Linked DNA regions of Homo sapiens. The protein of the gene in region 2 purifies or fractionates together with the protein of the main gene of each other region. This does not show direct contact. Each region holds a gene or a part of one and is shown on either strand. Other genes may lie near its edges.

Region 1 (4,262 bases), on a different chromosome or scaffold from region 2:
ATACTCTGTGATTGGCCTGGCGCGGTGGCTCACGCCTGTAATCCCAGCACTTTGGGAGCTGAGGCAGGAGGATCACGAGGTCAGGAGATCAAAACCATCCTGACTAACACGTGAAACCCCATCTCTACTAAAACTACAAAAATTAGCCGGGCGAGTTGGCGGGAGCCTGTAATCTCAGCTACTCGGGAAGCTGAGGCAGGAGAATCACTTGAACCCGGAAGGCGGAGCTTGCAGTGAGCCGAGATCGCGCCATTGCACTCCGGCCTGGGCAACACAAAGAGACGCAGTCTCAAGTAAGTAAGTAAGTAAATAAATAAATAAATAAATAAGAATAATGTTTCATTTTCTGTACTACTCGGGAGCCTGAGGCAGGAGACAGCCTCCTCAATTCAGGAGAATTGCTTGAACCCGGGAGGCAGAGGTTGCAGTGAGCCGAGATCGCGCCACTGCTCTCCAGTCTGAGCGACAGAGCGAGACCCCGATTCAAAAAAAAAACTGTGATTAAGTGGTTTCTAAAACCTAATGTGTAATACTTGCAAAGATAAAATTGCTCTTCTACCAAACCTTTCTTTCAATATTTCTGAAACTGTAAAAAGTACTTTAAATTCTAATGTTATAAGCAAAGTAGCTAAAATGGGGCTGGTAATTTTTCCCCTCTGCTTTATCTTGGGTTAGAGTCGAAGTATTTAAGCACTTCCGAGTATGTAACAGCAAGCAGGTTCACCACACTGGGGAAAATGTCTTGAGTAATGAAAAGAGCACCAAGATAATCTACCTTATTAGGCAATCTAGGCTTTTTTGAAAGTTATAAATGAAAAGAAATACAGTATAAAAGATGTCATTTGAGTATTATCAGAGTAATTTTGCAACGCATTATTTATATATTTCAAATATTCAAGGCACCATATAACTGTTCAATTTTATTTCTTTTTTTTTTTTTATTCAAAGCCTACATTCATAGTTGCTTAATGGGATGTTTTTCTTCTTCATATTTTTAGTGCCTTTCAATAAAATATATCATTGCTTAACATCTACATTTTGCTTAACTTTAGATCTACCCACACATACTCAGGCTGAAAATAAATGCTCTTTTACAAGTTAGATTTTGGGGGATTTTGTACGTTTTGCTTTGCTTTTCGGTTTTCATTGTAACCATAGTCAACTAGATTCAGCCATAAGACATCAACACTGACAAAGTGTAGTCCGGACTAGCTTTTGCACTTCCACATCATGATTAATTTATTATTCATCTGGTACCTTCCTATTAAACTTTGTCTTTAGCCTGTGAACTTTTCTTTCAGCTTCCAACAAAGGATTTCATTGCTTTAGGAATCGAGGTGTGGCTAAGTTTTTACCTGGGAGCAAAGGTGATGCAAGCGTTTCTGGTGAGACCTACCCTTGGTTTAGGGTGGGGAGGGACCGCATAACAGACCATCTGTAGACTCCTTCGGAAAGCAGCAGAGACGCTGCAGAGGGCTTTTCTTAGACATCAACTGCAGACGGCTGGCAGGATAGAAGCAGCGGCTCACTTGGACTTTTTCACCAGGGAAATCAGAGACAATGATGGGGCTCTTCCCCAGAACTACAGGGGCTCTGGCCATCTTCGTGGTAAGTCCTGGATTTTCCTAATAATCACAAACTTCCCTGCTTCCTCCCTTGTTAAAGAATATTATATTTGATTGCACAATCTTTATTATAAATTCTAAAAGGAGTGCAGTGGAAATCAACACTTTGAAATGAAATCGTGAAGATTACCAATTTCCTTCTTTTGTTGTTTTTTATGTTGTATTTTACATAGAAAAATAAACCAGAAAGAAATGAGTTTTAAAAACCATTTAGAATTTTTTTTAGTTAATGAATTAAGTAATCTTAATCACAGGTTATATTTTCCACAACATTTTCACTTTCTTTAAAGTTATGCTTTTACTAGTTTTTCTAACCCACAAACAAGAACACAGGAGCCACTTCTATTTTCCAAGATTACATGTCTCTTAGCATATAGCTAAGAACTCTACACGCCTGGGCTTGATACCTGACACGCTTTTAAAAGTAAAAAATCGCAGAATTAAAATCAAAGCAGTGTTTGACTCTAGAGAAGTTGGGAGGATTATTAAGTAAGTATTTATGTTTAGCTATTATGTGCCAAAAGAAAATGTCAGCCTTTGGGGATGGGGGGAAAGACATACAACATTTTAAAGCCATTTTTTTCAGAAAAGTAATACTTCTGTTGATTGAGAAAGTCGTACATAGTATTATCTAAAAGAGAAACGGAATGTTACAGACTGTTTAAAACCTGGATGTTACAGACTAACTTACTCCTTAACTGTGTTCTTATAGCAAAAAAAAAAAAAGAAAAGTCACAATATTATCTGTTACACGGAGATATCAAAATAGTTAAATATACCTTAAAAATGAATGTCAAAACAATTCCTAATGCTAATTTGTATGGTTTCCATGATAAGCTGGGTTGGCCTAGGCATCAATTTACCTCATTTCTTCATGAAAAAAATTGAGATAAATGGACTTCAAGAAGTCACAGGGAGATAGATCTCAAGAAAGGACTTTCTTAGCTCTCCCTAAGATTTTTGTTTTTGTTTTTGTTTTTGAGACAAGGTCTGGCTCTGTTGCCCAGGCTGGAGTGCAGTGGTGCGATCTCCAACTTCTGCCTCTGGGGTTCAAGTGATTCTCGTGCCTCAGCCTCCTGAGTAGCTGAGATTACAGGCGTGCACCACCACAGCCAGCTAATTTTTTTGTATTGTTAGTAGAGATGGGGTTTTGCCATGTTGACCAGTCTAGTCTCAAACTCCTAGCCTCAATGGATCCGTCCACCTCGGCCTCCCATAATGCTGGGATTGCAGATGTGAGCCACTGCACCCAGCCTCTAAGATTCTATTTCTATTACGACAATGTAACTGTGTTCAGTACCTGATTTTATTTGAAAGGAGGATGTTGTTAAAGAGAAATGTGACAGTTGTATGACTTTCCCACCTTTCCAGATGGGAAATGTCTGGGCTGAACCCCAGGTGGTCTGATAACCCCTATGTCCAAGCCAATGGCAAAGCTCAGGAAGTTAGGGGCCATGCAGCATGGGCTGTCGGGATAGTATTGCCATGAGGACATAGGATTGGGCCACCATAAGCTAAGGGGGATTCTTTTTTTTTTCTAATTTGACATATAGGACACTCTCAATTACTCCTCTGATTCTGGAGTGACTGTGACATCCTTATATTGAGGCTAATTTTTATTTTTATATTCTCAATGCTTATTATATCTGTCTTAGAGTGGACATGCAATTGTTTGAAGAATGAGTAAATGAATGATTTAATGAGCCTTCTCTAAACTAAAAAACCCCCGCACAATGTCCCTATAATTCTAGTCATAAAGGAAACTATGAAATGACATGTATTTGGTTCCACTCAAGAAAATTTTACATACACATGCTGTTTAAACAACAGTATAACTTCATACATAATTGTTCAACTGAGTGGTCTAGACCTACTCTGTCCCATATGGTAGCCACCAGCCACATGTGGTTTTAAGCCACTTGAAATGTGGTTGGTCTGAGTTGAGGTGTGCTATTTAATATAAAATATACATCATAATTTGAAGAAGACTTTGAATGAACAAAAGAATGTAAAATATGTCAATAATTTTTTATGTTGATTACATGTTGAAATGATAGTATTTTGGATGTATTAGATTAAGTTAACCGTATTGTTAAAATGCATTTCACCTTTTAAAAACGTTTTAAATGTGACTAAATTTTTTAATTATATGTGGTTCGCATTTGTGGTTTTTAGCTTTCTATTGGACAGTACTGGTCTACTATTAATGCTATTGATAGAAGGCAGTGTCAGTCAGGAGAGAGGCAATCAAGTCTTTATGGATTCAGTGAAATTTGAGCTGATTTGGGATAAGTATAGATGGACGGGCCAAAAGGAGATCTCTTGGGTTGTCAGAAGAGTATAATCAAAGGCAGGCACAGTTAGGATTTGCCTAGGGGAAATGGACACACCAGTATGACTAGCATGACAGTTTGCTTTGGAGAATCTGGACATGAATTGGAAAGGCAGCTGAGGGTCAGATTGAAAAGTGCATTTTGTGAAGGCTCATGGAAACCTTTTACAAGTGGGGAGCCACCCAGAGTTTTGAAATAATGTGGTCATGGGGGGGAAAAGCAATGTTTTCTAAAGCATTCTCAAGTGGGAATGCTCATTTTTTGTTGTTGCAGGGTGGGTTCTGAAAGTTGGCAGATGTGTTTG
Region 2 (4,509 bases):
CTATCAAATTTTTGTAAGTTTATCTTAAATCCAGCAATCCTGCTAAACTCTTACTAGTTCTAAGTTTTCTCTGGATTTTAATGGTTCATCTAGGTAGGTGATCATATTATCTGCAAATAATAACTTTTATTGCTTCCCTTACAATCTTTATACCTTATTTTTTTGCTCCTTATAATGTTAGCCAGGACCTTCCTACAATGCTAAACAGTAGTAATGACAGGAGCATCCTTATCTTGTTACGGATCTTAAAGTATATGTATCTAAAATTTCTCCATTAAGTATTATTATTTACTGAAGGTTTTTGGTAATGACCTTTATCTAGTTATCTTGTACTCCTAGGTTACCAAGAGTTTTTATCATAAATAGCTGCTGGATCTAGTTGAATGATTTCAGGGCACCAATTGAGATAATCGTAATTTTTTTCCTTTAGTCTATTAAAGAGCTAAATTAGATAAGTAGATGTTAAACCATGCTTTCATCTCTAGGACTAACTCTATGGATCAGGACTCTGTAACACACTGTTGGATTTGATGAGCGAGTATTTATTCTGCAGTATTTTCATTTCTATGCTAAGTAAAACAGACCTATAATTTTCTCTTCTTACATGTCCTTATCTGTTTTAGAATCAAGATTTCACAAGCCTCATAAAATGAACTTGGTATTTTTTCTATTTTCCAGTGCAACTTGCAAAAAGAATTAAGTGTTAAAGTATGGTGGAACTCATCAGCGTATCTGGATGCAGAGCTTCTAAAAAGGGAGATCTTTACCATTTCAGTTTATTAGTTCAAGATATTTCTTCTGATACCAATTTTCACATTTACTAGTTTTCTAAGAACTATATTTTTCATTTAGGCTTTCAAATTCATCAGCCTAAGTTCATAACGTTCTTTTTTTAATCTGATATTTGTAGTTATTTTCCATTTTTCATTTATTTGCATCTTTTTTTCTTGTCGTTTTTATCAGAGGTCTGTCTGCCTAGCTTACTCATCTTTTCACAAAAATAATCTTTTGGTGTGACAAATCCTTTTGTTCTCAATTTTACTGATTTCTGTTCCTAACTTTATGCTCTTTTTTGAACTCTTCAAAGGAACTTTACTAAGGCAATCTTCCTTCGTGACTCAGGTGAAGTCATTCTGCCACTCTACAGGAGGTCTGGTTCCACAACACAGCCTTCAACACACAAACTATACAATATAAACATGATTATCATGAATAAGGAGAAAAAGCGTATATAATCTTACCAAACGTACATATCAATGTCTTTGACTAAGGCAGTATCTTGGGGCAAATAAAATTACGCGCTGTTCCCACACACAGTGTGTAAGATTCCGACTATCTGCATCAAGGCAAATATTTTCTCTGCACAGCTAACTGGACAAGTACAGCTTCATAAAATTAGTAGCTAGAAATGAACTCTCCAGTTGCTTTACCAGATGCCACTCAAAACTTGCAGTTAATAATAGGAGAGAAAAACCTGGCTGTGATGGTCACAATCATTTTCAACATCCTATCACCACCACCACCGCCACGCACACATACACACAAACCAAAGTAAAAGCACATTCTTTTCCTAGCTATGGAAGCATACATATATCCTGGTCAGAGGCAGTTTCGGATTACAAAACAGATTTTGGTCTTAAATCTTAATGCGTGCAATTGAGCGTTAAGACAGACTACTAACATAAAGTTCAACATGCAACCCAATCTTGGGTTTGGACACAAGACATAACCCATCCTGAAAGGCTTATTCTTATGAGTGTAAGCTCTGAAAAGTGATTTTATGCATTATTAGCTTCAAGACGATGTCGGAGCTGCCACTGCATCGGAAAGCAACTCATTATTTCCCTAGCAGGATGCAAAAGTGTAACACAGTAGAGAAGGAACAAGGTGTAGATATAGGTCAACTTTCAAATTCCTTACTTGTTTAACACAGCCTGGCCAAAAACACAAGAACACAAGTTGCCAGATTTCTTTTCTCTCTCTGGCTGCAGAAGACTGAAGGCCTTTCCCTAACGAGACTCAGGCAGCCTTATTTTCCCCTCACTTTGAGGGTGAAACTTCAAGAGAAGACGGGTGCGAAAAGAGCTTCCCAATGTTGAGAGACTGCCAGTTGTGATAGGGATCGCACTGACCGAACTTGGGGCTCCGTGTGTACCAGGCTGCCTCTCTAGGCCAGGTAATACAAGAAGCCAGGGCCGCTCAGGCGCTGGCCGCAGACACCAAATGAGGGGGAGGGGACGGTGAGGGGGAAGGAGGCAGGGAGGCGAAGGCGGACGGGGAGAAGAGGAAAGACCGAGGCCTGAAACAAAGGAAGCGGAGCTTTCTCCAAGAGGGGGTGGATTCGGCGTCCGAGTGAGGTGGAGAAAAGCCAAGGCTGCAGGGAAAGGCTGGACTCACAGAACTTGGAGGTGGAGGTGTTGATGTTGATGGTGGAGCTGGCGGTGGGGGCGGGGGCCGCCTTGGCCACGGCGGCGGCCGCGTCGCAGCTCTTCAACATCATGATCACCCCATTAGCCTCCGGCGGTGGCTGCGGCCCCATCGGGAGCCCCTCCTTGGGGCCTTTCCTGTCCACGGAGACCGCGGGCACCGCCAGCAGCTGCCCCCCCGGAGGCTCTCGGGCAGGGGCCGGGATCGACGAGGGGGGCGGCGGAGGTGGCAGGGGCTGCCGGAAGCCGTCCACCGCAGCCTCCCAGTTGTTGTGGTTCTGGTCGTCCATCATCGCCTCGTAGCTGCCCCCCTCCTCCTCTTCCATGCTTTCCTCCATCCTGCTGGCCCCCGGCACCCGCCCGCCTCACAGGCACCTGCCGCCTGTCTCAACCCCGGGCCAGCGGGCACCGCTGCCTCCCCGAGTTACATCGCCGGCGGCAGGAATGGGCGCAGCGGAGAGGGCTGCGGTGCGCAGGGTCTCTCGCTCTCCGCGGGGCCGACTAGCTTGAAGACGCGGCTGACGGCGGTGGGCGCTCCGGGGCTCTAGTCTGGGAGAGGCAGCCGTAAAGCAGCGGCGCTCCTCACGACGTTTTACAGCGGCTTCCAACAGGCAGTTGGAAAGGGCAGCTGGGGGCGCGGCCAGGAGGGCACGTGGTGCGAGGGACTGGCCGCGAGAAAGCGGAGCCAAAAGGGGCGGGAGCTGTGAGTCACTCCCACGCAACAGGGCAGAGGTTCGCCCCGCCTCGGCTGGCAGGGAGCTAACAGGGGAGGCGCGACGGGTCGGGACGGGCATTCGCCGGCCCCGCCCCCTGCCCGGCCTCACGTGACAAAGGTGTGTCTTGCGCACGCGCGTTCGCAATCTGGTTACCATGACGACGAGGCCCTCGCCGGTTCCTGAGGACGCGCGCGGAGCAGTCTTGGCAGTAGCTGTGGACTGGCCAGAGTGATTGGAGGTGTTTTCCTCGCGTCCTCCAAGTCTACGGGGCCTTCGCACCTCTGAGTGCCTGAGAGCCCCGGCTTTTGCTTGGGACGGAGGTACGGGACCACAAGAGGCCCCGGGGTCGCAGGTTATAAACGGATGAGACCGCCCTGGGCGGCCCGTGGTCCGACTGCTCTTGGGTCGGTCCCCAGCCGTCGCGACACACACGCACAAAATCGAGAATAAAAACCGAATCACACATAGCAGGATGGCGCAAAAAAGAAATGCGTTTGAGTTACTCATGTGTTTTTAAAATTCCTTTACGTTTGTATGCACTAAGGCCAGCAACCCAACTTTTAAAAATGCCGGCTCAGGCCGGGCGCGGTGGCTTACTCCTGTAATCCCAGCACTTTGGGAGGCTGAGGCGGGCGGATCACGAGGTCAGGAAATCGACACTATTCTGGCTAACACGGGAAACCCCGTTTCTACTAAAAATACAAAAAAGTTAGCCGGGCGTGGTGGCACGTGCCTGTTGTCCCAGCTAGCTGCTCGGGAGGCTGAGGCAGAATTGCTTGAACCCGGGAGGCAGAGGTTGCAGTGAGCCGAAATCGCGCCACTGCACTCCAGCCTGGGCAACAGAGCGAGACTCCATCTCAAAAAAAAAAAAAAAATGCGAGCTGGGCGCAGTGGCTCACGCCTGTAATTCAACCACTTGAGGAGACAGAGATGGGAGGCCCGCTTGTGCCCAGGAATTCGAGACCAGCCAGACCAGCATAACAAGACCACGCCTCTAAAAACAAAATTAGCCTGGCATGGTGGCGTGTGCCTGTGGTCCCAGCTACTCTGGAGGCTTAGGTGGATCACTTGAGCCCTGGAGGTCAAGGCTGCAGTGAGCCGAGATCGCGCAACTGCACTCCAGCCTGGGTGACAGAGTGAGACTGTCTCCAAAAAAAAAAAGAGAATTAAGTGGTATGCTGAAGGGGAAAACATAAAACCTTAGAATTACATGTGTGGCAAAAAGAGAGGCAGAAGGAAGGCAAATTCTGTTTCAAACAACTAATGGTTTATCATCAACAGACTCTAGGTAGATGGCTGGGTGAGTGCGATGGGATAAAGAAGGGTCTTTACATTTAAAAAAAAAGTCCAATATACAGGGAAGATAG

What was found.
Region 1: the proteins of CACUL1 (region 2) and DSG3 purify together in Homo sapiens (affinity purification with mass spectrometry; one large-scale study listed by BioGRID and IntAct). This does not show direct contact.

What each region holds. Positions count from the first base shown.
Region 1 is NC_000018.10:31,446,318-31,450,579, forward strand, and holds the start of DSG3 (desmoglein-3 preproprotein), read left to right. Parts: upstream 1-1,423; 5' UTR 1,424-1,560; coding exon 1,561-1,608; intron 1,609-4,262. UniProt on the Homo sapiens protein: A component of desmosome cell-cell junctions which are required for positive regulation of cellular adhesion. Required for adherens and desmosome junction assembly in response to mechanical force in keratinocytes.
Region 2 is NC_000010.11:118,751,999-118,756,507, forward strand, and holds the start of CACUL1 (CDK2-associated and cullin domain-containing protein 1), read right to left. Parts: upstream 2,973-4,509; 5' UTR 2,765-2,972; coding exon 2,398-2,764; intron 1-2,397.